Linked DNA regions of Homo sapiens: regions 2 and 3 are each linked to region 1. The links come from fine-mapping of genetic effects on gene expression. A gene starts in region 1. Each other region holds a variant in brackets. All regions are shown on one strand. Distances are between the middles of the regions.

Region 1 (9,798 bases):
CATCCAGCCCAGCACAGACTCTTATACATGTGACACATACACTGTTTGTGGAGTTCACTAGAGAACCACCCAAGGAAGTATATAAAGGCCAGGAGCAAAATGAAGACAGAAAATGCCACCGGGGTTCCCAGGAAAAAGAGGTTCATTTGGGATGGGATGCCAGGGTCTTGAGAGGAGCTCAGACATGAGAAAGGTCTTGAAAGAGGAGAGGGATGGAAGAACCAACCAGGAAGGTGGAAGAGGATGAACTAAGGGGCCAAGAAGGAACGCGCAAAGCATGCTTGGGAGATAAGTCTGGCTAGAACCAAGGGTTCCAGGAGGGAGGAGAGTGGCGATAAGGCTAGACAGGCAGGATGCTGAATGCCAGGCGAATGCACCGGGATTAGATCCACTCCCTCTTAGTCAGTGAGGATGACAACCACTGCAGGCTGGGCCCTCACGGCAGAGAAAAGAAGTCTTGTCCTCTCTTGTTCCAAGCATCTTAGTCCAGTCTCCTCCACGAGGTTATAAATAACAGCCACCGTTTACTGCACACCTGCTGTATATGAGGCCCTGAGCTACGTGCCTCACATACATCAGCTCATGGCTCCTTCCCAACACCCTGAGTACTTGGTATTGTTATCCTCATTTTGCAAGCAAGGAGCTGAGACTAAAGGAGGTGAAGGCATCCGCCCAAGTCCCAACCCACTCACTCATTCACTTAACAGTGCTGGCTGGCCCTGGGGTTACAGGCCTGCGAAAAGGGGGCACTCCCTCCAGCCACCCCAGGTTCAAGGGCTTCCCACCTAAGCTGGGCTGCTTCTCCACAACTCTCCCGATTAATTCCTCAAGGTCAGCATTTACTAAGCACACAGCAGGAGCTTAATAAAGCACACTAAACAGACAGAATAGTGGCTGCCAGAGGCTGGGAGGAGGGGGAAACAGTTGTTTCAAGAATATTAAAGCTTCAGTTTTACAAGGTAATTTCTGGAGCTGTCGCACAACAATGTAAATAGACTTAATGCTACTGAACTGTACATTTAAGAATGGTTAAAATGTACACTTAAGATTTTACATTTGCCAGGCGCGGTGGCTCATGCTTGTAATCCCAGCACTTTTTGGGGCCGAGGAGGGTGGATCATGAGGTCAGGAGTTCAAGACCAGCCTGGCCAACATGGTGAAACCCCGTCTCTACTAAAAAAAATACAAAATTTAGCCGAGGGTGATGGCGGGCGCCTGTAGTCCCAGCTACTGGGGAGGCTGAGGCAGAGAATTGCTTGAACCCGGGAGGCGGAGGTTGCAGTGAGCTGTGATTATGCCACTGCACTCCAGCCTGGGCGACAGAGTGAGACTCCATCTCAAAAACAACAACAACAAAAAAAAGATTTTACATTCAGTGTTTTTTTAACCACAATTTTAGAATTTTTTATATAAAGCACACTTCCTAATTGATTGAGTGGCTGCCAATATCTTACACTGTTAATTATCTGATGCTGGAAGAGACTCTAGAATATTTCTAATCCAATATACCACCAAAACAGAGAGTTGGAAAGAGGAGGTAAATTGCCCAAGGTTGCACAAATAGGTGGTGCCAGGTGAAGACAAGGCTCAACATAGAGGAAAGGGGCTGGGCGTGGTGGCTCACGCCTGTAATCCCAACACTTTGGGAGGCCAAGGTAGGAGAATTGCTTGAGGCCAGGAGTTCAAGACCAGAGACCAGCCTGGGCAACATAGCACAACCCTGTCTCTACCAAAAAAAAAAAAAAAATTTTTTTAATTATCTGAGCATGGGGCCTGTACCTATAGTCCCAGCTACTCGGGAGGCTAAGGTGGGAGGATCACTTGAGCCCAGGAGTTGGAGGCTGCAGTGAGCTGCTTGTGTCCCTGTGCTCCAGCCCAGGCAACAAAGCAAGACCCTGTCTCTAAAAAAAAAAAAAAAAAATAGAAGAAGGGGCTAAGTACGGTGGTTCATGCCTGTAATCCCAGCACTTTGGGAGGCCAAGGCAGGCGGATCACCTGAGGTCAGGAGTTTGAGACCAGTCTGGCCAACATGGCGAAACTCCATCTCTACTAAAAATACAAAAATTAGCCAGGTGTGGTGGCGGGCACCTGTAATCCCAGTTACTTGGGAGGTTGAGGCAGGAGAATCACTTGAACCCAGTAGGCAGAGGTTGCAGTGAGCCGAGATAGTGCCATCGCACTCCAGCCTGGGCAACAAAAGCAAAAGTCTGTCTCAGAAAAAAATAAATAAATAAAATAGAAGAAGGGCAGAGAGGCAGATGGCAGAATAGATGGCACAAGGCAGGAAGGTCAGAAGCCAGGGTTCAAGTTTTGCTTCTTTCACTTAATGAGTGTTGTGACCTTAGATAAGATACTTATTCTCTCTGAGTATCATTTTCTTAACCTATAAGAAGGCAATTAAAAGTAACAAACTTCAGCCAATGCGGTGGCTCACGCCTATAATCCCAGCACTGTGGGAGGCCAAGGCAGGTGGATCACTTGAGGTCAGGAGTTCAAGACCAGCCTGGTCAACATGGCAAAACCTCATCTCTACTAAAAATACAAAAATTAGAAGGCGTGGCGGCACGCGCCTGTAATCCCAGCTACTCGGGAGGCTGAGGCAGGAGAATGGCTTGAACCTGGGACGCGGGGGTTGCAGTGAGCTGAGATCCTGCCACTGCACTCCAGCCTGGGCAACAGAGTGAGACTCTGTCTCAAAAAAAAAAAAAAAAGTAACAAATTTCACAAGATTACGTATGAATTAAATAAAATTATATACAGCTAATGTAACGTGCATAGAAAAAACTTGGCCAACTATAAATTACTTTATCAACACTAGTTATTGTTATTAATATTAAATATCTGTTCATAGGTTTAAAAAGCTCTGCCAGAATATTAAAATCTGATTAAACCAGACCAAAAAAAAAAAAATCCTACTCTCACCTGTTCAGGGACTTGCACACAGGGCGTCTTCAGTGAGTGAGAGTAGAACTGAATTACACTTCAAGTTTTATCTACCCCAATCCTCTCCCTCCAACCCACAGCCCAGCTGCATCAGCCATGCCAGGACCAAGCCGAGGGTAGGAAGCCGGTGTAATTGTCTGCCTCTCTGGCTGCATTCCTTAGCTAAATATAAATGATTTGTCCAGGCTATTGTTTGAAATTATCCATAATCCCTCTCCTCCCCTCCCCATTACTTATGATGGCAAGCTGGCTGCGTATCTCTATAGCAAAGCATATATTCAACATTCTCTGTGGCTATTTTCAGTAAAGAGAAGGGAGCTGGCAGGTATATATAGGGATCCTCGCATGAGTCTTCAGTTTTCTCCACTAGTCCAGGAAAGCTTCCTGGAGGAGGAAATACCTGAGTCACCCCAGGGAAAAGGACAGCTGCAGGTCAGAAGGGCACGCGCACATAATGAGAGACTGGGTCTCTGAACTAAGAGTTACCAGGTAAGGCAGGTAAGCCCCTGCCTTCTTACCCCCCGTTTTGGTGATGCGAGAAAAAGGTAGCTCAGGGGATCCCATACTAGCCCAAGCTTCCCCAGACAAAACAGGCATTTGGGGGAAGATGAAGCAGTGACTCGTATATTTTTCAAAGAGGGAGGAGATCCAAGACTCCAGTTCCAAGATGTACAAGTACAAATATTGCTCTTACAACAACAAGCCGGTTTCTTGTTTGGATCTTTTTTTAAAAACCACAAGAAAGTTTTTTGAAGTCCCAAACTTGAATGCACAGATGGGCTAGATCTCCAACTTCGGGATGTGCCAGAGTCCTGTCACTCGGAGTGCTGATCTTCCAGCAGTGGCCCAGGGAGCGGTCGCGGGTGCCGGGGGGCTGCAGGCCATATCCCAGCCCTGCCCGAAGGCCCCCTGGCCCTCTCTGGGGTCCTTGTATGGACTGTCCCAAGCGGTGCACGGGGTCACACAGTCGGAAACCCTTGCCGGCCCCGGGTTACTCCCTTTCTGAAACGGTCTTCCTCGGAGCCATCCCCTGGAGGACCCCACTTCGCTCGGTGCCCGGGCCCCGCACCCACCCTCCCCTTCCCGGCCCGCTTCCCGCACGGCGCCTACTCTGTTCCTCGTCCTCTCGTCCCACCGCCGCCCTGCCCACACTGCCTCCCGTGGGCGCCCCCGGCCGCTCCCCCTTCTCGGGTCTCGGCCTGGGGGTGCCCAGCCCGCCCGGCGCCGGCTCAAGGCCGCGCGACTCCGCACGCTCTCGAGACCCGCCTCGCCGCCCGCCGCCCGGGCCGCACTCACCGCGCCCGCAGGACCTGGGGGTCTCCGCTCTGCTCGCGCTCCGGCACCGCCGCCGCCGCCGCCGCCAGCGGAAACAGGGGGCGGGGCCTGCCCGGGAATGGCGAGCCTGCGGGGCGGGGCGGCCCGGGGGCGGAGCGGGGAGGGGCGGGGCGGAGCGGGGAGGGGCGGGGCGGAGAAGGATCGCAGGGCTGAGCGGGGCGCCAGCGCCAGTGCCCGGCACTGCCCCGGGCTGGGTCCCCTGCGTTAGAGGAAGGGGAGCCCGGGGACGGGGCACGGGGCCCGCGAGGCACGGGTGCTCTCTCGGGGTTCCGGAAGCCTCCCTCCCCGCCCCGCCGCCCGCATGCCCGGACCGGCCGCTCCTCCGAGGTGCTATGATCCCGCCTTCCCCCTGCGGCGAACGGGCCTCTTCCCGGGGTAGGGGCGGGGAGGTCCGGGCCTGGCAGTGCGCTCTCCTGGGCTCTGCGCCCACACGGCACCCAAGGGCCTTCCTGGCCCAGGCCTCGGCTCTCTCCCTCGCGCCAGGCTGCCTGGCCTCGCCACCCCACCCCCACACCTACGAACCCCTTCCCTGGTGTTTCGGGCGGACTGTGCGAGATGCTGACAGCGCGGGTGTGTGTTGGAGCCTGCCTGAGACACCTCCCGCAGAAAGGGCCATGCCTCCCCAGGAGCTGGCGGCCTCCAAGGGCGACTACAGGGCACCGTGTGCCTGAGGGGTGCGCTAAGGCAGGAGAAACTCCAGCTAGGCATGTCTGGCCCGGGCGCTTTTTCAGGCCTGGATTTTATGTGTTTTTTGCTTTTTGTTTTGTTTTGTTTTTTCTTGAGACAAGGACTCACTCTGTTGCCCAGGCAGGAGTGCAGTGGTGCGATCACGGCTCACTGCAGCCTCGACTTCCCGGGCTCAAGTGATCCCGCCTCAGCCTCCAGAGTAGTTGGGACTGTAGGCGCGCACCACCACGTCCGGCGAAGTTTTTGATTTTTTTTGTACAGACGGTGGTCTCCCTGGGCCCAAGCTGGTCTCAAACTCCCGGGCTCAAGCCATCCTCCTGCCTCTGCCTCCCAAAGTGCTGGGATTATAGGCCCGGATTCTTAAAGCTAGAAGGCCTAAACTTGTTTCCAAAGAGCACTAAAACGCCATCTCTTCTCATCATTACTGTCATCAAAAATGTCTTCTAGGCCAGGTGTGGTGGCTCACGCGTGTAATCCCAGGACTTTGGGGGGCCCAGGTGGAAGGATTGCTTGAGCTCAGGAACTCAGGAATTCAAGAACAGCCTGGGCAACATAGGGAAACCCCATCTCAAAAAAAAAATGTTTTAATTAACCGGGTGTGGTGGCACACCCCTGTAGTCCCAGCTGCTCCGGAGGCTGAGGCTCAGGCGTTGGAGGCTGCAGTAAACTAGGATCATGCCACTGTACTCCAGCCTGGGCAGTAGAGGGAGACCCTGTCTTTAAAAGTGAAATTTTTTTAAATTTTAAAGAAACTGTATGCTGTGCTTCCCACGTGCCCTACCATTGCACTAAGCTTGACTGGGGACAAGTTTTTAAAACCTGGCTATAATCACTAGGGTCACTTTTGCTTTCTGCTAATTAGACTGGAAGTTTCCACTCATCTTCTGGGCCCCTTTCCGTCACACACATGCAACCTTGTTTTTGTCTATTAGACTAAACCCATAACCCATTTCCTTCTGATCTCCCTTTCCCCACAAGGAAAATATTCTCCTTCTACATTTTGCTTCATCCAAAGCCCTGTTCAATGCCCCTATAACAAAGTCTTCCCAAGGAACCCCCACCAGCCCCAATCTCTCCAGTCACTGCGGCAGAGTTGGGTACATGTACCCAGAAAAGGAAACTGGGTCTCAGACAGGGAAAGAGATATACTAGGATTGTCTGCCAGCAAGCCAACTCACTGGCAGACCATTGGACGCAGCCTGGTGAGGGAGTAGCCGCAGGGCTTGGGAGCCAGACACACCTGTCTGAATCCTGGCTCTGCTTTTATCGGCTGGGACCTCTTCAGGCCTGTTTTCTCACCTGTGGAATGGGGCATAAGAATACCAATTATGGGGATGGGCATGGTGGCTCACACCTGTAATCCCAGTACTTAGGGAGGCCGAGGCGGGTGGATTACCTGAGATCAGGAGTTTGAGACCAGCCTGGCCAACATGGTGAAACCCCGTCTCCACTAAAAATACAAAAATTAGCCGGGTGTGGTGGCACATGCCTGTAATCCCAGCTACTCGGAGGGCTGAGGCAGGAGAATTGCTTGAGCCTGGGAGACGGAGGTTGCAGTGAGCCAAGATCGTGCCACTGCACTCCAGCCTGGTCGACAGAGCGAGACTGTCTCAAAAAAAAAAAAAAAAAAAAACCAATTCCACAGGGTTGATGGGCTGACCAAGATGATGGAGTAAAAGCACAACATGTGATGTGTGGTGACTGCTCTACAAATGCTAGCTTCCTCCTGCCCTTTTTGGTTTTTGTTTTGTTTTGTTGTTTTTGAGACAGGGACTTGTTCTGCCACCCAGGCTGGAGGGCAGTGGTGCCATCATGGCTCACTGCAGCCTCCAACTCCTGGACTCAAGGATCCTCCAACCTCAGACTCCTAAGTAGCTGGGACCACACGTGCATGCCACCATACCCAGCTAATTGGGGTTTTTGTTTGTTTTGTTTTTGTTTTTGTTTTCGTTTTCGTTTTGTTTTGTAGAGACAGAGGCCTCACTATGTTGCTCAAGCTAGTTTTGAACTCCTGGCCTCAAGCAATCCTCCCACCTTGGCCTCCCAAAGTCCTCCTGCCCTTTAAAAAAAGATAGGCGGAGCACAGTGGCTCACACCTGTCATCCCAGCACTTTGGGAGGCCAAGGCAGGTGGATCACTCAAGCCCAGGAGTTCGAGACCAGCCTGGCCAACATGGCAAAACCCCATCTCTACTAAAAATACAAAAATTAGCCAGGTGTGCATGGGCGTGGTGGCACATGCCTGTACGGGAGGCTGAGGTGAGAGGATTGCTTGAGCCCAGGAGGTCAAGGCTGCAGTGAACCATGATTATACCACTGCTCTCCAGCCTGGGTGACAGAGTGAGACTCTGTCTCAAATTAATTAATTAATTAGAGCAAATCTGAAATAATGGAATTCTGAAGTCTTAGAGATAGATGAAATCTTAGAAGAAATCCCTCAGCAATAGCCCAGAAAATGGCTTCACTGCTCACTCTCCTTCACCACATTCAGAGGTGAATGCCTCAGTGCCTCTGAGGGGCTGACAGTTGGAAGGAAGCTCTGAAGAAAAGCTGTAGAGGAGATGGGATTATTCAGCATAAAGGACACAAAGGTGACTAGTGGTCTGTGAAGCAGACACACTGATAGTGTCCACTGAGGACTAAACGCAAGTAAACCTGACAATGACGCACCACCCTCTTGGGGAAGGGACTTACAAACGCATGAAGTCACTGCTTATCATACCAGGCTTCTGAGGAAATGTCATTGCATTTCCCTTCTGGAGGAGATTCTGAAAAATGCTGAGGTTAGATATAGGTAGGGTGACTGTATCCAGGTTTCGGGGGCACATCCTACTTACTCCTCTTGTCCTGGCATAGTTCCTAAGTCCCCTTTCACTCTCGAAATATCCTGGCGTGGATGATAAATTATATGCCATTTTAACTGTGAACAAAGGCAGGACTCCAAACAGCTCCTTCCAGGCCTGGATGTCAGCAACTCTGCTGGAATTTCTGGATCCCCAGGGACTTCAAAGGATAGCATGTCAGTTTATCCCCTTGAAATCACCAAATCAAATCAAAAATGACAATAGGCTAAAATTAAAGTCCCAGCCAACCACCCCAAGTCAAGCTTCAGGACTGTGCCTGCTGAATTGCGACACCTAGTGGCGAAAGTGCACGCTGCCGGAGCGGGGTTCCGCCAACACTTCACATTCGGCCATAGGTTTCAAGTGACTTGCAAAGCAGCTAACAGCTAACATGTACTGTTTATGTGCCAGGCACAGTTCTAAGTACTTTACATGTTCTAACCCACTGATCCTCACAACAACACCATGAGGTAGGTAGTAGCATCACCATCCCGACATTTTTACAGATGAGGAAACTGAGGCTGAGACAGGTTAAGTAATTTCTCCAAGGTCATTTCACCAGCAATTGACTAAGCTAGGATATAACCCCAGGTTGTCTGGCTGGAGGGCCTGCACAGTTAACTACTGCTCCATCCAGAGTGTAATGCACAAAGTTACTTCGGAGGAATCTTCCACCTGAAGAGACTTCCACCACCCCTCTGACATGGAGATGACCTGAGGGTAGAGTGAGAGGTAGAATGTATGAAGAGTTCCACTCTCGGCCAGGCGCAGTGGCTTATGCCTATAATCCCAGCACTTCGGGAGGCTGAGGTGGGTGAATCCCCTGAGGTTAGGAGTTTGAGACCAGCCTGGCCAACATGGTGAAACCCCGTCTCCACTAAAAATACAAAAATTAGCCGGGCCTGTAATCCCAGCTACTCGGGAGGCTGAGACAGGAGAATCACTTGAACCTGGGAGGCGGAGGTTGCAGTGAGCCAAGATCGTGCCACTGCACTCCAGCCTGGGCAACAGGACGAGACTTCGTCTAAAAAAAAAGAGTTCCACTCTCATGTCTACCAGTACAGAATAGTAGTTTCCACATCTATAAAAATCGCCTGGGCCTGGCGTGGTGGCTCACGCCTGTAATCCCAGCACTTTGGAAGGCCGAGGCGGGTGGCTCACCTGAGGTCAGGAGTTCCAGATTAGCCTGGCCAACGTGGTGAAACCCTGTCTCTACTAAAATTACAAAAATTAGCTGGCCGTGGTGGCGGGCGCCTGTAATCCCAGCTACTTGGGAGGCTGAGGCAGGAGAATCGCTTGAACCCGGGAGCGGGGGGTTGCAGTGGGCCAAGATCATGCCACTGCCCTCCAGCCTGGGCGACAGAGCGAGACTCTGTCAAAAAAAAAAAAAAAAGTCGCCTGGGCACGATGGCTCATACCTGTAATCTCAGCACTTTAGGAGGCCGAGGTGGGCGGATCACCTGAGGTCAGGAGTTTGAGACTAGCCTGACCAACATGGTGAAACCGTGTCTCTGCTAAAAATACAAAAAAAAGTTAGCCAGGCGTAGTGGCGAACGCCTGTAATCCCAGCTACTCGGAGGCTGAGGCAGGAGACTTACTTGAACCTGGGAGGCGGAGGTTGCAGTGAGCAGAGATCGCACCACTGCACTCCAGCCTGGGTGACAGAGCAAGACTCCGTCTCACAAAAAAAAAAAAAAAAAAAGGAAAAAAAAATGCTTTCCCAGGCGACCGGGGAAGACGGCGGAGGTGCAGGTCCTGGTGCTCGGTGGTCGAGGCCATCTCCTGGGCCGCCTGGCGGCCATCGTGGCTAAGCAGGTACTGCTGGGCCAGAAGGTGGTGGTCGTACGCTGCGAGGGCATCAACATTTCTGGCAATTTCTACAGAAACATGTTGCATGTTAAAGCACCTGGCCTTCCTCCACAAGCGGATGAACTCCAACCCTTCCTGAGGCCCCTGCCACGTCCGGGCCCCCAACGCATCTTCCTGCGGGC
Region 2 (9,798 bases), 200 kb before region 1:
TGATTGAGACTGGACAGATGTCCTCTCTTCCCACCCATCCCTCACCCTCAGGGAAAAAAAGTCAAACCATTAAAGAAATCAACACAGTAAAAAGTTACAAATCAGAAATCTAACCCTAAACTTATCTGAGAGATAATATTCCTGAATAATCATAGAGTAAAATAAAATAAAAAAGTTACATTGTAAGGTATAAAAAGCCTGGGCGAGATGCTCCAGGGGCCTTGCCCAGAGGCCGGCAGACCCCCGCCCCGCCAGGTGCCCCATGGTGGCCATGGATGTCGCAGCCCCCGCTGGGGCGGTATCTCCACGGGGCGGGCACTCTGCTCCCCACCCCATGTGGGGACAAAGTGTCAGTGTGAGGAAGGGCAGGGGCAGAAGCCCATCAGTGCCGGGGGTTCCTCCGGAGCGCACCCCAGCCCACCCTGTCGTCTTTGGCAAATACGCATATGCAGATGCAGGAATCCAGGGGCCCCGAGCCCCAGGTCTCCGTGTGCCTCCTCCTCCCTGGCACTCCACCCACTGAGAAGTCCGAGGCTGAGGCAGGGTAGGTGGGGTAGGGCAGGCTGTGGGGGGTGGGTGCAGGGGTCATATCTGGAGAGCGCAGGCAGGTGACACAAAGCTCAATCCTCTTCCCTCCACAGGGCAGCAGGGCGGGGTGGGCACTCCCGGCCAGCCCGCTCATGCGTCGTACTTCTTACCAGTCCGGTGGATGTGCTGGAAGAGGGTCATGGAGAAGGCCATGCCCAGGATCTGAAAGACACGGGGAGGGGCCTGAGGCAGGAGCTGCAGCAGCCTGGACCTGACCTCAGCCCCGAGAGGCTTGGGATGTCACAGGGCACCTAGAGCAAGCGGGGATGGCCACTGGTGTGCCAGGAAAATGCTTATGGAATGAAGACATGAAGAAAACCGTGAACAGAGGTCACCCTGGAGACACACACAGGTGAACTCTGGCTCAGCCTCGTGGGGCTGTTAGACCAGAAGCCATCGAACCTCTGCAGGATGCATACGTGTGCCTACTCAGAGGGGCGCTGCAGGCACGGAATGCACGGAGGACCTGGCTCTACGTGGGGGCTCACAGGAGCCAAGGTGGGGAGTGGGAGGTGGCAGGGATCATTCAGGACTCAGGCCAGCCGGGCACGGTGGCACTTTAGGAGGCCAAGGTGGGAGGATGGCTTGAGATCGGCCTGGGCAATAGAGGGAGACTCCATCTGTTTTTGGAAAAAAGTTGTAAATCATTCAGGTATGGTGGTGTATATGCCTGTAGTCCCAGCTACTTGAGAGGCTGAAGTGGGACGATGGCTTGAGCCCAGGAGTTTGTGGCTGCAGCGAGCTATGACGGCGCCACCGCACTCCAGCCTGAGCAACAAAGTGAGACCCTGTCTCTTAAAAAAAGAAAAATAAAGGACTCCTGTCAAGCCTCTCTTGTCTGCTTGTGGAACACATGGTGCGATGTCTTGGCAGCAGCAGGGCTGTCTTTCCAGTGATGTGTGCTCAGGACCACGTCACTACTCGTTTGTGCCCCTTCCCTCCTGAATCCTCAAAGGAGCCGGGGACCCAGAGGAGTGCAGGAGGCAGAAGGAAGCCCGGTGTGGTCTCACGGTCACCACAGAGAGTGTGCCATGTGCACAGGCTGTAAAGATGGTGACCGGGGGACACCGTGTGTGTCTTGCATGGCTCTCTGAGCTCAAGGTTTGGGCAGAACTGGGGGAACCCACGGGGGTTGACTCCAGCTTCAATATCCCAGCCTGGGCCTGGCCACAGGCAGCCCTGAGCACCACTCTCAGTGCTGAGTAGACACGTGCTCTCATATCAGAGCTCTGCGGAAACGGTGGCAGGCACAGCTGCTAAGCTTGAATAGCTGTGATGAATTCCAGACCCTCCGCCGTGTACCAACACTGCTTTCACTTCTCTGTGCTTCCTTCCCTCTGAGGCTGAGGCCAGCAGGGTGGGTGAGGCTGCTGGGGACGCCCCTCTTACCTGCATGATGAGGATGCACATCCCCACCGTGCCCAGCACGTGCTTATTGTCATCGAACCACATCTTCACCTTTTCATAGCAGCCCTGGGGAGCGAGGCCCACGAGGTTAGGGTCCCAGCCCAAGCATGCGCTCCCTGCAGCCCAGCCCCCAGCTCACTCTCTCCTTCCACCTCGTCCTCGCTCTTACCTCCCAGCCCTCCCTGGCCTCAGCCCTGTCCCCATCCCTTGGCGCAGCCTCCGCCCCACCCGCAAGGCCAGCTGCAGAGCCTCAGACCCCATTCAACCCCTCGCCCTCTGACTCTCCCAACTGTGGGTCCAGCCCCACCCCCCATTTTCCACCTGTCTTTTGGCTTTATTTTTGTGAGCCCCCCACCGCCACATTCAGCCAACCTCTTAGTGTCCCGGGCCCAGCCTCCCCTATAGGGCTCCCCGTGCCGGGGCATCCACACACGGGCTCTTGGACCCAAGCGGTCCATCCCCAGCCTCACCGTTCTCCACAAAGGCGTGGTGGCGTTGCGCCCGCAGCCCTGGGAGTTCTCCATGCAGCAGCGGTCGGGAACCGTGTTCTCCCCCAGCACTGGGTACCAGTCTGTGTAGTCAGTGACACCACAGCATCGCATCTGGCCAGCAGGAATGGAAGGGGCAGTCAGACATGCCATGGCCCGCCCCTTCCTCCCCAGGGCCTTCCCCTGCCCAGGCCAACCCCAGTCCCCGCAAAAGTGGCCACCCTGCAGTTAAGGGAGGAGACAAAGGGCTTGCTTCTTGTCCCTTCTTTGGGCTTCAGCCGGGCCCACTGGAGAAGTGAGTGAGCACTCCTTCCTGGAGACCAGAGCGGGAGAGGGCAATGCAGCCCACCCCTCGGGCTGGGCCCCTTGGCTCAGCCCTGTGCTTGCCCACCAGCACCTCTGCTCTTTCTGTAAACCGTCCCAAGCTGACTGCCACCCAACCCCCTGCCGGCCCCTCCCCAGGGCTTAAAATGGGAGCATCTGGGACTATGGACTTGTTCTCCTCCTAGAGCCAGGGCCTCCTCACCTAAGCCAAGCCCCATCATGGAGGCAAATCTGTTGCTAAAATAAATTCAGTCATTCATCCCAAAGCTCAGCCACAGCTCTCTCAGGCCTGCCCCTCCTGTATCCTCATCCCTCCCTGGCTGTACCTTGCTGTATCACATCTGACTCAGCAGTTCAGGCAAATGCCCCCGTGGGTACCACTCCACTCCCGGCTAAAATCCAGAAAGCACAGGTGCCCGGCCAGGTCACCGGGGAAGGCAGCTAGAAGTACCGGCCGCCACCCCTCCTCCCTGCCTGGCCCCACCAGGGCGGCCCAGCCCGCACCTCAGCCTGGATGATGTTCCAGGCGTTCTTCAGCCCCACGTTGTTCTCGGTGTGGTACAGCAGCAGGCCTTCCTTCAGGTCCTTCTTGGCGTTCTCGTTCACCTGCCAGGCGGAGGGACACAGTGAGACGGTTGGAACCAGGACGCAGCTCGTCTCTCCAGCCCACCTCAGGTCACCCAGGATGGTGGGTGACAGATGAGGAGTGAGGAAGGCAGGGAAGGCAGCTGGTCTGGAAGGCCCTGCCCACTGGGGTGGGGGCCTCTGCTGGCCCAACAGAGGTGCGGGGTTAGGCACACACTCCCAGTTTCAGAATACAGCAGGCCCTGGTGCACCCACCGCCTCCCGGCAGAGCTAAACTCAGGGCCAGGGCTGTAACACCCAGAGGCAAAAAAACACACCACGTGCCTCCACTCCCCCATCCCAGGACCAGCCACACACACAGGCCACTCTGCCACCCCCGCCCCCCACTACACAGCTTCCCCACAGACTGCCCCTCTCAAAACACACCCTGGGAACTAGAGGGAGGAAGACAGGTCATGTGACCTTCACCTCCCTCACCGCTGTTCTACCCGATGTTGAACAGCAGCATCTACTCATGGCGCTGTTGTTAGAATTAAGGGAAACAATTCTCATAAAAGGGCCAAGAACAGGGCTGGCACAGAGAAATCTCTCAACATTGTTCTTTCTTCCTTTTCACGAGTGCAAAACTAAAAGATTATTCTTTCTCATCCTAACGATGTCTCTAACTTTCAGTGTGGCTCAGGCAGCTATTTCAAGAACTGCTCCTTACACAGTTCTGGAGTGCATGGTACCAAAGGGCCTGCCACGCCCCAAGAGACTGAAATCCCGGCCAACCTCGCTCTTGACTGCGAACTGCCCAGCCTGGCGAGGTTACAGGGGGTCACCCACCATCCTCCTGAACCCAGGAGCAGCGCCCGTCCTCAAGGGCTCTAGTGCAGGAAACAGAGCTTCCCTGTGCCTCAGTCCTGCTCAGCCAGCGTCGCCCAGAGAGTTCCTCCTTGTTTTTCATGGTTTGCTCTCAAATCACCCAGCCCAACCACCTGATGAGGTCTGAATCCCTTCTCCAAGTAGCTTAATTCCTTCCAGTGAGAGGGAGCTCACTAGCGCCAGAGGCAGCCCACTGCCATCTCTGGTCATGCAGAGGATTCCACTTCCTGGAACTATACAAAGTCAACTCTCCCATCCTCCAAATTTGCCTGCCCCATGCTGCCCCCATCAAAACCTTCCATCTGCTCTTTCCTTGGTAGCTTTCCCAACCCTTGGTTCCATGTTCCTTTCTGCACAGGTGCTGCTTGCCAGCACTCTTCCTCTGGCCAGGGAAGGGACCCTGGCCTGCTTGGCCCAACTCTAAGGGCAGTGACATTCCATATGCCCCCTCCCATCTGGTAAGGCTTACCTTGTCCATGTAGACAAAGAAGAGGATGAGTAAGATCAGCTCTGCTAGGAGGATGACCAACAGGACGATGAAAAACTGGAAAGGAAAGGGCCAGGCATGGGTAGGTGGTAATGGGCAGGGCTGAGGACAAGGAGGGTGTGGAAGGCAGGGACAGGCGGCGCCTAGGTGGGGCTTCCCAGGTCTGGGAGAAGCCAGCTCCTCCTGAGGAAACCCAGATAGCTAGGACAGAGACATAAAGGAGCTGACTAATCAGGGAGTGGGAGGGACAACCAGGGGTAGGCATAACCAACCATGAGGAGGAGGGGTGTGGTCAAGCCTAGAACGTTCTAGAAGCAGTTTCCCTGGGCTCAGGTTGGACACCCAGGTGGCTAATATTCCAGGTCTTGCCTGTCCCAGGGGTCCAAGTGCAAGGAGATCAGGAGTTGGAGGGGCTGGGGATTTGGACAGAACTTACGCTGAGGAGGAGGCACTTGTTTTCCTTGATGGCCCCCAGGCAGCCGAGGAAGCCCGTCACCATGACAATGGTGCCTATGGC[A/G]ATGACCAGGTTGGCTGCAGACAACGAAGGGAAGCTGGGGGAGAAGGTGGCAAAGTTGCCTTGGGACACGGAGAGCCAGATGCCCACTCCCAGCAGCCCACAGCCACAGAGCTGGAAAGGAAGGAAAGCCCATTAGCCTGGCGCTGCTCTCACATTCGTCCATGGACCTGGGAACAGTGCAGGTCCCCACCCCATGCTCTGAGACACAGACAAAGTGAGAACCGACAAGGTGAGAACGGGACTACCGTTGGGCTGCAGACCCGAAGCATGTCGGCTGTGTGACCCAGACAGTCCCCTAGCCTCTCTGTGCCTCAGTCTCCCCATGTGACAACGGAGACTGTGCCAGTTTCAAGAGCCTCCCAGGTCATTCTGAGGATGGATTAAACCACACAGAGGCAAAAGTGCGTAACAAATACGTGGAAGGTACTGGACACATGTGAGTGGTTAGGTTACTCTGCATGATAGAGAAGAGGCCCCAGTGTCCAAGACGGAGGCCTGGTGAGAGGGGAGAACTGGGGTCAGGAAAAGCAAGAAAGACTTCATCTCTGGAGGTGGGAAGGGACCCTCGGAGTCGGGTTTCTTGGAGCCAGAACTTCCAGCGACTGTGTCCTGTTACTCTGACCCGAAGGGCCATTTGTCCACTGGAGTCTGAAGAACAATTTCCCACAGATGGAGAAAGGAGGCAGTCATCGGCTGGCTGGGGGCCTGGCCAGTGTGCGGGACGTGGGAGTCCACGGCTGCCTTCACCACCCATCCAATAAGCTGGCCTCTGGCATGATCGGCCCCCAAACCGAAAAGCAACTCTCCCCAACAGCACCCCTGGGGCTGCCGGCGCCACCAGCTCCACCTGGGGAAGCTTCCATTTCACCGGCTGCAAATCTCCACATCTGTCTTATTTTATGCTCGATATAGCTGGCACTCCCCGACTCCCTCCGCCAGCTCATGGGAAGTGTGCTGAGTCTGAGGAGCCAATCAATCAGTGAAACAGTATTTACTGAGTGCCTACAGCATGCAGTGTGCCATGCCAGAAAAGCTACAACCACTTTAAAGACCTGTTTTCCAGGGGCCTCTGTTCTGGCTGGATGGGAGCAATCAAAGTGCAAAATCTACCACTCCCAGGTGGGATGGACTGGTGCCCAGTCAACGCTACGGGCGCTCAGAGGAGGCAATCACTGTCGCAGTCATGGAAGCCAGTTGAAGGAGGCAGTCCCTAAAGGGTGGGTGGACTAGGGGCAGATGGAGGACGAGAACATTCTATGCCGGGTGAAAGTGCAGGTGGTAAGGGCTTGGGAGTCACAGACCCAAACAGGACTCCCGGCTCCAGCTTATCCTGGTGGTGTGAGCTTGCAAACCTCTCGTATGCAGAGTGAGAATATCATCCCCTTCCTATTGGACTGCTGTGAGAATTAGATTGGAATAAGCTACGTGAAGTGGGTGGCCAGCTCCGGGCACTGCTTGCTGGAAAGGCACTTCCCGGGCAGCTGTTCTGTGCCAGGGCCTGTGCAGACTATGCTGACTCCAGGAATCAGCCCAGCCCCTGCTCTCAAGCTGCTCTGGTTCCTGGGAAGAAACAGAGGCTCAGGGCTGAGACAGGGCAACCCGCAATTAGGCAGGGTAGGGATGCCCATGGGAAGGTGAGGGGAGGGGACAGACGCCTCCCTGAGGAAGGGCATCTCCTTCGCTTATTCCTCCACAAACCCAAGTGAACACCTGCGTATTCAGTGCCAGGCCCTGTTCTCCAAGCTGGGGAGACAGTGGTACACCTCACTGGCAAAGACCCTGCCTTCACGAAGAGTAGATTCTTACAGGAGACACTGACCTTATGTAAGCAACAAATGACGTAACTGCAGTTGCTGACATGCGCCACGAAGAAAAATAAGGCAATGTAAAGAGCCAGAAAATAACTGGGGAGGGTGTGGGCAGCGAAGGTGTCTTGGAAGAGGTGGTGTTTAAGCAAAAACCCAAATAAACAGGGGGAGGGAGCAACATAACTATCTGGGGGAAGAACGTTCCAGACAGAGAGAACAGCAGGTGCAAAAGCCCCGGAGTGGGAAGGAGCCTGGCCAGCCAAGGAGGAGCACGCTGGCCGTGTGCTACAACAGTGAGTGAGGTGACACATGGTAGGAGACAAAGCAGGCGGGGTGGCCGGGGGCCAGGCCAGCTGGGACCTCGCAGGTAAAGGAAACGTGCAAGTGTCCTCAGTGTGACGGGAAGGTCCCAGAGCTGGAGAGTGACATGATCTCACTGAGGTTTTCAGCAGATCACTCTGGCTGCTGTTTGGAGAAGCGACCGCGGGAGGGCCCGAGGGAGGCCAGGAGAGCAACTGGGAGGCTGCTGTGATTAGGCTTGGGTTTGTGGAGGAATAAGAAGGAGATGCCCTTCCTCAGGGAGGCGTCTGTCCCCTCCCCTCACCTTCCCGTGGGCATCCCTACCCTGCCTAATTGCGAGCCTCTCTTTCTTCCCAGGAGCCAGACCAGCTTGAGAGCTGGGGACGACTCATACCAGGAGGCTACGGAGGAGCGGTGAGAAATGGTCCAATTTGAGATGTTTTGAAGGTGGCATTGACAGGCCTTGCTGGGCTTTGAAGAATGAATAGGATTTTGATAAATGGGGAACCAGAAAGGTGTGCATGAAGAAAAAGGTAGGAACAGACACCGCCACGTATTACTAACCAAGAGACAGTGCAAGGAGCTGCAGGGGGGTCCGAATGATTTACGTCCAGCAGCTGCCTGGGTCCTTCACACTGTGGAGAGTGGGCCTGTGCCTCCTGTCCCCTGGCGCAGCCCCACATGGAACCACGTCAGGGCTCCCAAAGAATGGGCACACTGAGACCCACAGCATCGCCCAACTGGGCCATCACAAAGCTTCGCCAGGGAACGGGGCTAGCCCCGCCTACGGCCACTAGGTGGCGCTCCAGGCTGGTTCAGAAGCTCTGGGTTCGCCAGCGATGGCTGAAACTTTCATCCAAATAGTCACTCTGACTTTTCTTCAATCTGGTCAGTTTCTATGCTGCCGTCTCAATTTTTCTTTCATTAATCATACCATGGAGAATTTATGATCTTCATGCTGAAGATTTATGGCTCTAAAAGCCAGACCCTGGAATGAGTAAGCGGAAACCCCACTGCCGCAGGTACTCGCTGCAGGGGAGCTGCAGGGCGCCCCCACACGCTGCAGCTGGAGACACGCAGGACCCCAGAGCTCAGAGCCCGGACCCTTCTCGGGCCTGGAAAAGTTCTCAAAGCACAGCCTTCTCCTGAAGCGGTTTCCCACTGTGGGTGTACCTGCAGCGGGGGGCCCCTTCCGAGCCCTCTCTCCACTTCCCTCCTGGGATAAGTGCTGGGATGCTCAGGTACCTCTACCTAGGAAAACCTCTTAGGTCAGAAACTCCAGGACCTGGTCACCTCTCTTCAAACTGGTTCTCTGACTTCACACTCCACATCCTTTGATTTGGTCTTGCCAGACCCACCTGGGAGCCTTCTACCTCTCAGGGAACACAGCTGGTGCCCTGTCCCCAAATCTGCTTCCTTTCCCATTTCCTGTCCAAAGTCCTCCAGGCCCCCAGGAAAGATCTGCGGCCTACCCTACGGGGGCGCAGTCTGGACTGGAAGGCTTCCTCTCCAAGCCCTCAAACCTGTTCCTGCCTCCATCACAGCTCCCGCCTGGCACAACTCCACGCATGGTGCACGTCTGCCCAGTGAGGAGGCCTGTGCAGTACAGCGGGTGCCACGCACATCCCCACTGCCACGCTCCCATCCTCAAGGGGCTCCTGCCGAGATGAGCTCTCTGCTCCCATCTTCTGATGGCCCAACACTAACAGAGCCTCCCGGCAAGAAGAAAACACAAAGGTCACGCCTCGATTTTCCAGGAAGCTAAGCGGGGGGACAAGGAAGTCCCCAGTCACACTGCTGGGCTGGGACAAAACCTTGGTTTCTGGCATTTGGTGCAGAAGCCTTCACTACCTGCTCCCAGGGGACCTCCGACTGACAGGTGACAGGCACCAACACTGGGCCTTCGCCACAGGTCCCATGTCCAGATCACGGCCCCCACTGCCCTCCCTGCCCCTGGCCTCTAGTTTCCAGCCCAGCCTGCATAGAGCTGCCTGATTCTTTTCCTAAAATGCCTCTCATCATGCTGCTCCCTAGTGTGACCTTAAGATTCTTTAGCTCTCGGAGGCCCAATTTCCTTTAAAACTTGGGATTTGGACGAGATCATTTCTTAGGTCCCTCTGGCGCAGTCTTAGCCGAGTCTGAGACATGGTGCTCTCAGCCCTCAGCCCAGTGGTTCCCAATCAGGAGCAATTCTGCTCCCCAGGGAACATGTGGCATGTCTGGGGACGTTTTTGGTTGCCACAATGGGAGGGGCTGCTCCTGGCACCTGGTGAGTAGAGGCCAGGGGTGCTGCCAAACACCCCGCAGTGCACAGGACAGTCCACACAGTCAAGAACTGTCTGGCCCCAATTGTCAATAGAGTTTGAGAAACCCCGCCCCCTACCCTATCCCCCCACGCCAGGCACCCACCCTTGGGCTGCCAACATC
Region 3 (9,798 bases), 50 kb before region 1:
ATTCCCTGCACACCTGCCACGGTCAGGCCAGAAGCTTTCATCAGCATTAGAGGATTTTCTCACTTCATACCCACAACAGCCCTAGGAGGTAGATGGGACTGCCCCCAGTTTCGGGTGAAGAAAATGAGGCTGGAGAAGGTAGGTAACTGGCCCACAGGCATCCAGTAAGTGCAGGGGCTGAGATCCTAATGGGAGCACCTGTGCAACTGGCTGCTGCTGTACGCCACCATCAGCGCAGAGAACGTGGGCCGCAGCTTCGGCATGTCCAGGCTCAACCAAGTCCCACTGTCGCTTGCTTGCATGTGACCTCTGGCTATTTACTCAACCACGCGGTGCCTGGGTAAAAACTGCAATTAACACCACCAACCTCGAAGGCCGGCTGGGACAATGAAATGAGATGACTGTGCCCAGCAGCTCCTGGCACGTAAAGGGCTCCATAAACATCCGGTTTCTTTTTTTTTTTCCCCAAAAGTGGAGAAAATGACAAAGATGGAGGAGACTGTCTCAGCAGGTAGAGCGTGTGTACCCCGTCAAAGGAGGCGAGGAGATGCAGCACAGCAAAGAGCCGCTCAGCAAAAACAAATACCACACGGGCACTGGCCCCAACGACCTTGAAGGTTCTGCCCTTGAAATCCGATGCGGCTACAACGTAAGACCCCTTCCCGAGAGTGGGCTTTGCTAGAAGCAAGAAGGGAGTGATCCAAGAGCACTGGGATCCTAAAGGAATCAAGGTCGCCACAAAAAAAGAAAATGTGCAAAGAAACAGAAGGCTGGAAAACAGCAAAAATAAAGTTTGCCGGTAAAAATAGAAGTAACTCACATTTTTAGAGCACGGCCGTGTGTGCCAGACACTCTGCTAAGCGTTTTGTGTAGGTTATCTCACTGACTCTGCACATCTCTGTGGGCCGGTACTATTATTATCCCCATCTCACTGGTGAGGCAGCAGAAGCCGAAAGAGGTTCAGGAGCTTGCCCGAGGTCACGCAGTTAGGAAGGGCCCACTCTGCCACCCTGCCCCAGGCCAGTCCCGAGAAGCCCTATCACCTGGATGCAGTCACCTGACTTTGGGGTGTTGCCTCCAGACACCATCTGCCCAGCTCCCACCCTCTGCTGTCCGTCACACCTGGAGATGCCTTTCCAGAGCAGAAAATCAGCCCCAAGCAGCAGCAAACCTCTCCCTGCCTTGCTGTGGCCAGCAAGCGGAAAGCTAGTAGCTGACGCGAACAAGAAAACATGAGAGGATCAAGTAAACATTTGGGGAAATGTTGTTAAATAGAGGGGGAAAAATGGGGAACTTCCGTTTTCACCAGCTCGATCAGCTTTAGGGCGAAACCGCAGGCTGCTTCAAGCGGCTGCCAAATGCCCAGCCAGATCCTGCCAGTGCGCTGGCACTGAGGGCAGGAGGAATCAGGTTTCCCAGGCTGGTGGGGCAGGGCTGGCCACCGGGGGAAGCGGAAGTAGAAGGGAAGCGACCCTCTGGCCACCCCAACAGCACTATCCTGGAGAGGGCCAAAGAGGCGGTACAGCCGCCCAGAGACCTTCCCAAGTTGCCAAGTTTGTCCCACACATCGGTGATCCACGCAAGAAAGAGGATGCAGGGAGGGATCAAAGAAGACCCAGGGGCCTGGGCACCTCCAAGTACACCTGATATCTGAATGCACAGAGGGCATGGAGGGGTTGGTCAGGGATGAACAATAAACAGGGTTCTACCTCTGCCAGGCTCCCGTCACTGCTTCCCCGAGGGACAGCTGGCCCCAGGGACGCCACTCCACACGGCAGGAACCGTTCATCCTACCCTTGAGCTGCCCAGCAAGGGAATTATGAAGATGAAAAAGGCAAATGCTGAAAGGAAGCTGAGCTCTTAATTTTTGCTTAAGCTAACATTCAAGGGCTTACAATGTATCAGACACTAGGCCAAGTCCTATACATGGATTATCTCATTTAATGTTCTTAACAGCCCTACAAGGTAGTTACCACCAACATCACCATTTCATAAGTGGACAAATTGAGTGCCAAAGAGTTAAGGGATACATGTGATGACGAGCTTGTGTGTGGTGGAATTAGGATGCAAACCCATGTGGTCTGACCTCACAACCCACACTCCTAACCAACATCCTTTACCACTTCCTGAAACAGACTCTCAGGAGGTAGTAGAAGGAACTATTAATCTTAGCTCCTAACCTTTGAGCATTTACAGCTTCATAAAGGGGATGGATAGACGGATCCAATGCATAGAAAAACTACCTCGGAAAACACATGTCACATTACTAACACGTGCATCCATTTCGGTTGTGCAAAGTCCTGTGGGTGGGTGTGCAGGCAGTGGGGAGCCACTGGAGTGACTGGAGAGGAGAAGAGTGGGCACTCGATTTTAAAATACGATGCTGCACAATAGCCAAAAGGTAGAAACACCCAAATGTCCATCACTGGGTAAAAGGGCAAAAAAATGTGGCATATACACACAATGGAATATTACTCAGCCATAAAAAGGGAGGAAATCTGACACAGGCTACAGCATGGATGAACCTTGAGGGTACAATGCTAAGTGAAGTAAGCCAGTCACGAAAGGTTCAATATTGCATGATTCCACTTACATGAGGTACCTGGAATAATCCAATTCATAGCCAGAAAATGGATGATGATAACCAGGGGCTGGAAGTAGGGGGAGAATGGGAAGTTATCATCTAATGGGTGCACAGTGTCAGTGTGGGATGATGAAAAAGTTGTGAAAAGAGATAGTGTGATGATTGCACAATAATGTATATGTACTTAATGTCAGTTAAAAATGGTTGAAATGGTCAATTTTATGTTGCGTATATTTCACAATAAAAAATTCCAAAATATAATGATGGTGATGTGATGAGGTGCTGAATCTCAAAGTGTTTAGTCTTTCCTTTTAGTGAGGAACAGAGTGGTTACCCAGGCAGCCTCGTGCAGAGTGCAGGGGTGCCTGACTCACCATAAAGCCAGGAAGGTATTTCTTGGGGGGCTATGGGTAATTCAGCCTTTCGTGGGGCTTTTGTTGGGGCAGGGGTTGAGACAGGGTCTCACTATGTTGCCCAGGCTGGTCTTGAACTTCTGGGCTCAAGCAATCCTCCTGCCTTGGCTTCCTGGGTAGCTGGGACTACAGCTGCACCACCACGCCCAGCCTCCTTTTGTGTGTAAGGCCCCCTTGAAGACACTCTGAAATCACGCCTTCTGTGTTTTGAAAGTTCATTTCCCACTGAGCTTGAATATCCAAGAAAGTCAGTGAGATTAGCCATTTTGTGTTTGCAGGCCCAAAAGGAGGGCATCCTACAGGTGGAGCTGGAGAAAAAGTGGTCAGGGCCCTGGATCTATGAGATAATGGACACTGAACCACATCCCTGGCTCAGTCTGCCACCCCAAACAACTTGAGAACAGAGACAAGAATGGGAAAAACCTCTCTGCCAAAAATAACAATATTGTAATATCGGTAGTACCATCATGCACCACATAACAATGCTTCAGCCAATGACGGACCACACATACGACAGTGGTCCCCTAAGATTACAACGGAGCTGAAAAATTCCTACCGCCCAGTGACATCATAGGTGTCGTAATCCAACAACACACAGTCTTGACGTGTGTGTGGTGATGCTGATGTAAACAAGCCCACTGCACTGCCAGTCGTGTAAAAATGTCTACCACAAGGTGGGCATGCCACCAAGCCTGTAGTCCCAGCTAATACGAAGGTGGAGGTGGAAGGATCACTTGAGCCCAGGAGTTCGAGTCTAACCTGGGCAACATAGCAAGACCCCATGAATTTTTTAAAAATATGTCTACCACAGCACATACAATTATGGACAGTACATAATACTTAAGAATAATAAACAACTATGTTACTGGTTTATGTATTTGCTATACTATACTTTTACCATTATTTTAGAGTATATGCCTTTAATTAATTTTCTTTAAAGTGGCTGGGTGCGGTGGCTCACACCTGTAATCCCAGCACTTTGGGAGGCCGAGGCAGGTGGATCACAAGGTCAGGAGATCAAGACCACCCTGGCTAACACGGTGAAACCCCATCTCTACTAAAAATACAAAAAATTAGCCGGGCATCGTGGCAGGCGCCTGTAGTCCCAGCTGCTCGGGAGGCTGAGGCAGGAGAATGGCGTGAACCCAGGAGACGGAGCTTGCAGTGAGCCGAGATTGCGCCCCTGCACTCCAGCCTGGGCAAGAGTGCAAGACTCCGTCTCAAAAAAAAAAAAA[T/A]TTTTCTTTAAAGTTAAGTAAAACGGCCTCAAGCAGGTCCTTTACAAGGTATCCAGAAGGCACTGTTGTCACAGGAGACGACAGCTCCGTTATGTATTGCCCCTGAAGACCTTCCAGCGGGACAAGATGTAGAGGTCTCACTATGTTGCCCAGGCTGGTCTCCAACTCCTGGGCTCAAGTGATCCTCCTGCCTCAGCCTCCCAAAGTGCTGGGATTATAGTCGTGAGCCTCCACACCTGGCCAGAAAAATATTTATATAAATTTATAAATTTAGTGTAGTCTAGCACAAGTTGGACATGCTACCAAGCCTGTAGTCCCAGCTACTTGGGAGGCAAAGGTAGAAGGATCACTTGATCCAGGAATTCGAGTCCAGCCTGGGCAACACAGCGAGACTCCATGAATTTTTTTTGCTTCCTGTATCACCTGCAGAACCATGAGTCAATTAAATCTTTTTTGTTGTTGTTTTGTTTGTTTGTTTGAGACAGGGTCTCACTCAGGTGCCCAAGCTGGAGTGCAGTGGTGCAATCCCAGCTCATTGCAGCCTCCTCCACCTCCTACACTCAAGCAATCCTCCCACTTCAGCCTCCCAAGTAGTTAGGGCTACAGGTAGTTTTTGTAGAGACAGGGTCTCACTATGTTGCCCAGGCTAGTCTCAATTTCCTGGGCTCAAGGGATCCTCCTGCCTCCGCCTCCCAAAGTGTTGGGATTACAGGTGTGAGCCCCCAGGCCTGGCCCAAATCTCTGTCCTTATAAATTACCCAGTCTCAGGTATTTCTTTATAGCAGTGCAAGAACAGCCTAATACAGGGGTACCACTTTAAATCTTTTATACTGTATTTTTAGTGTACACATAGAAAAGGTGCGGTAAAGGTACACATATCCAAATCACTCTGGCAGCTCCAGCGTATAGACACACAAACACTCTTGTGTTAGAATTGCCTACAGTATTCAGCACAGAAGCATGCTGTACAAGTTTGTAGCCTAGGAGCAAAAGGCTCTTCCCTAGAGCCTAGGTGTGCCGTAGGCCATACCATCCAGGTTTGTGTAAGTGCACTCTGATGTTCACGCAACAACAAAATCACCTAACAGTGCATTTCCCAGAACACAGCCCAGTCGTGAAGCAACACGTGACTGTATAGTTATCGATCCCTTATTAAGCATTTTGTAAGTACTCTCCCTTAACCCTCACAACATCCCTGTGAGGTCTTATGCATTTGACAGAGGAGGAAAGTGAAGCTGCAAAAGGTTAAGAGAAGTGTTCACAGTCACTACACTAGTGAGCCAGGATCTGAATCTCTCATCCAAAACTTACTTTCTCAACCACTATAGGAGAGCATTTTCACTAGACACTTGAACACAACAAACGCAACAGAAGTCTCTATTGTTGGGAGGGAATATTGCCACAAAGGCCAGCATTCATCCAAACAACAGGTTTTGAGCCCTCAAATGCCAGGCGATGTGCTGAGTCCTCGTTCATAATCCATGAAACACAAACAAAAAGGCTGTTCTTGGGCTATGATCACAAGTGTTCTCTGGGCTCACTTGAGGGTCAGTTTCAAACGTATTGTCAGCCACAGAACCATTCCTCTGTGGTGACACCAGGCTGCCCTGGTGTCACCCAGCAGGCCACAACAACAAGGCACTATTTTACATTGGGCTTTCAAAGGCCATTTAAGGCAGGAGTCGCAAATTCTTCTATCTGACAAACATCATCTGAACCACAGAGAAAAAAAATCAATTAAATTCCATGAGAAGAAAGAACCTTAAATTAGGGTCTTCTTATAGAGTGAAAAATATGAAATGTCTCTCTCATCAGAGTATTCGGAAAAACAGCCAATAAGAACAGTACCTATTTTTTAAAAATAATTATTTAGTTGTAAATTTACATCCAATTAAGGGAGAAAACTGCGGGGGGAAGAATGTGTTAGAGGAGAGGAAGAAGGAACTCCAATGCAGAGGCCTCATCTCCCAAGTACACTTAAAGCCCTGTTCTGGAAAGTGCTGGAGCCTGTTTTGCAATGAAAGGTGCTGTGCTGAGCACGCAGCAAAACACTCTGCAATCCTCTGAGACACCAAAGCACTTCTGATGTTTTTGTTGTTGTGGTTCACTAGAGAAATGTTAGCAAGTACATAACATAAAAAAAAAAAAATCACTAATAATCACGAACTACCATTAGCATTTTTGGTGTATTTCCTCTAACCTTTCTTCTTTTTTAAAAAAAATTAGGATTTGTAGTGTTATATCTTACAATATTTGCTTGACATTTTTTCATTAATGTTATTTTGTTTTGTTTTTTCAGAGACAGGGTCTCACTCTGTCACCCAGGCTAAAGCACAATGGCATGATCATAGCTCACTGCAGCCTCCACCTCCCAGGCTTGAGTAATCCTCCCACCTCAGCCTCCTGAGTAGCTGGAACCACAGAGGCACACCCCTATACCTGACTAATTTATTAAAAATTTTTTTGTAGAGACAGGGGTCTCACTATGTTGCCTAGGCTGGTCTCGAACTCCTGGGCTCAAGCGATCCTCCTGCCTCAGCCTCCCAAAATGCTGGGATTACAGATGTGAGCCACCACACCTGGCCTATTTTGAGTCATTATATATAATTCTTGAAGACATAATTTTTAAAAGCCCACACAGTGGTCCATCAGGCTGGGCGCGGTGGCTCACACCTGTAATCCCAGCACTTTGGGAGGTCGAGGCAGGCGGATCACCTGAGGTTGGGAGTTCAAGATAAGCCTGATCAACATAGAGAAACCCTGTCTCTACTAAAAATCCAAAATTAGCCACGCGTGTTGGTTGTGCATGCCTGTAATCCCAGCTACTCAGGAGGCTGAGGCAGGAGAATTGCTTGAACCCACGAGATCAAGCCATTGCACTCCAGCCTGGGCAACAAGAGCAAAACTCCATCCAAAAAAAAAAAAGAATGTATCAAAATTTATATAACTAATTTTCTATTGTTAGACATTCAGTATGCTTCCAATTTTTAGCTACTATAAATAGTGCTGCAATGAAAAAATATAACTACTTTGGTATAAACTCCAAAGAACAGAATTATGAATGAATGTTTCTAAGGCCTTTGATATAAACTTCCAAATAATTGCACTAAAAATAATTCTAAGCAATGTTGCATTTTTGCAACTCTAGACATAAATGGGACTATATCTCAGTATTTTCTACATGGACAGTTTAAGTCATGCTGACAGATAAATCCGTTCTGTGCGCCAGGAATTTCTCACTTCTGTTTTGAAGTGTCTTCTACTAGTTGCTCATATACCAGCTGAAAATGTGCTTCCAAACTACCCTGGCAGCTCCACTGCTAGCACCAACCACATTGTATCTTACATCAGAGGCAGCTGGTGGCCTGCCTGCTTCCCGCACTCCAGGAGTGCAAGGACCAAGCCCGGCTCACCTCTGCCTCCTCCCTGCACAGCTCCTTTTAAACCTCTCATCCTTCATCAACAGTTCTCAAACTATTTTTTAAACTCTTCCGCACATCCTCATCCCTCCCTAACTCATGTGTCACAGGATACGAAGTGGGAAGGATCTGAGACCTTGGGCAAGCTCCCTAGCCTCTTGGACTTCAGACTCATCTGTAAAATGGGAGTAACCATCCCTCTCCCAGAGAGTGCCTGCAAGGATTAAGGTAGGTAATGCATGCAAAGCTCTTAGTAACCATGACAGGAGCCTTAGAAAATACTCAATAAGTAATAATTTTTCCCAAAAAAAAAAAATACATAATAATAAACCCACCAAAAAATTGTTTAATCCTCCACACACTGGAGGAGATTAATGAATCATACAGCTGTCTCTCTCATCTGAAGCTCGCCCAGGCCCTGAATGCCTGGAGAGAGACTCAGAACCTTCGGGGACTGTGCCAAACCCACTGAGCCTCAGGCCAAGGGCAAGGGAGGTCTGGCAATGCCAGGCTTGGGACGGCAGGCGGGCAGCTGGTCAGCACAGAGCCACAGAAGCTCTAGGTCAGCTGTGCACAAAGAAGGGTTAAGGACAAGCTACAGGGAAATCAAAAAGAAACAGCCTGAATCAATCCAACTGGGACAGGGCTCTAGGGCACCAAGAGTAAGCAGGGAAGCGGTTCAAGGAGCAACAGGTTCCTCCCAACTAGCAGCTTGGATGCAGGTGAGGGATGCAGACGCCACTCCCGAGCTAACCCTGGACAAATCTCCTGTTGTTCGTCGACGGGGCTGGAGTTGAGTCACTGTGGCATTGTCCAGCCACTCTATCAGGAGGAAACAGCTGGACAGACCAACACTAAATGCAGGAAGCCTCAAGCTCCACCAGGGCTCCCTGTGGGGCCGCCTCCCTGTTTGGGAGGCCTAGCATCCTGCCTGCCTCTCCCCCAGGGACCCCTGACCAACCCTGAAGCATCCACTGTCCAAACAGACATCCCTGTTTCCTGCCTCCAAGTGCCTGGGGCAAAACGCAAGCTCTCTGTTTGGCATTTTGGCAGCCCTCCTAGGGGCAAGGAGGCGGGGTCACCTGCTTTCAACCTGCCAGTAAATAGAAACCAAGGTGTAGGAAAACAAGTGGTAGAGAAAAAACAATGACATTTAATTAATTCAGAAAGGACATACTGTGTAGCAAGAGGACAGTTTTTCTCTGGACTAAAACATGAGCAACATCCAAAAGTGGACGCCACCTCCCTGCAGGAGCACATTCAGACAGATGCGGGGACTCAAACCTCTCTGTTAAGAGGGGTTCTTGCCAACTTCCTTATCTATGGTCTCCTAGGCTCAGACAAAAGATTCAAAATCCCTGCTAGGATTTAGAAATAACTCAGGGCCAGGTGTGGTATCTCACACCTGTAATCCCAGCACTTTAGGAGGCCAAGACAGAAGGAGACCAGTTTGAGACCAGCCTGGACAACATACAAACAAAAAAAATTTTAATTTGCCAAGCATGGTGGTGTGTGCCTGAAGTCCTAGCTACTCAGCCGATCAACGCTGCAGTGAGCTATGATTGTGCTACTGCACACCAGCCTGGGTGACAGAGCAAGACTCTATCTCCTTTTTTTTTTTGAGATAGAGTCTCACTCTGTCGCCCAGGCTGGAGTGCAGGCTCACTGCAAGCTCCACCTCCCGGGTTCACGCCATTCTCCTGCCTCAGCCTCCTGAGTAGCTAGGACTACAGGCACCCACCACCACACCCGGCTAATTTTTGTATTTTTAGTAGAAATGGGGTTTCACTGTGTTAGCTAGGATGGTCTCGATCTCCTGACCTCGTGATCTGCCTGCCTCGGCCTCCCAAAGTGCTGGGATTACAGGCGTGAGCCACGCGCCCGGCCAACTCTATCTCTTTTTAAGACAAAAAACGAGGGGAGGGGAGGGGAGAACTCAGAAAAACAGCAGGATGGTTCACAGTTTAAAGTCAGACAGACTCAAGCTGGAACACTGTCCCTAACAGTAGCTGTGTGACTGATACAGTATAACATCACAGCCTTCAGTCAAGGTTTGCAAACTCAAGTACCTACAAGGTGGAAAACATAAATTCATGAAGTTACTGTGTACAAGGGCAAGTCCCAGTACTGTGTCAAGACTGAGGGGT

Direction of the effects. Alleles are on the strand shown, and positions count from the first base shown. SD is a standard deviation of normalised expression in the study named. Not every link is listed here.
As copies of T replace A in region 3, the expression in macrophages of the gene that starts at base 4,314 in region 1 goes up (large effect, 0.76 SD a copy in Nedelec 2016).

What was found. PIP is the estimated chance that this variant, and not a neighbour inherited with it, causes the effect.
Region 2: its variant is fine-mapped to the expression of TSPAN9 in testis (GTEx, PIP above 0.99).
Region 3: its variant is fine-mapped to the expression of TSPAN9 in macrophages (Nedelec 2016, PIP 0.93).

Annotation. Positions count from the first base shown.
Region 1 is chr12:3,071,895-3,081,692 of GRCh38, reverse strand. TSPAN9 (tetraspanin 9) reads right to left here and starts at 4,314. Exons shown (of 9, transcript NM_006675.5): 1 at 4,240-4,314. It also overlaps the pseudogene RPL13AP24. RefSeq lists silencers at 4,209-4,708, 4,759-4,808, 8,025-8,174 and an enhancer at 7,956-8,250.
Region 2 is chr12:3,273,997-3,283,794 of GRCh38, reverse strand. TSPAN9 (tetraspanin 9) reads right to left here. Exons shown (of 9, transcript NM_006675.5): 4 at 5,183-5,374; 5 at 4,729-4,803; 6 at 3,312-3,413; 7 at 2,466-2,597; 8 at 1,978-2,061; 9 at 1-750. The coding sequence ends at 679. Among named protein-coding and RNA genes, the nearest start is that of LINC02827, 21 kb to the left of the region's middle. The variant A/G (reference allele first, on the strand shown) is at 5,264.
Region 3 is chr12:3,121,795-3,131,592 of GRCh38, reverse strand. The region is part of intron 2 of TSPAN9 (tetraspanin 9); the gene reads right to left. Among named protein-coding and RNA genes, the nearest start is that of TSPAN9-IT1, 23 kb to the left of the region's middle. The variant T/A (reference allele first, on the strand shown) is at 4,233.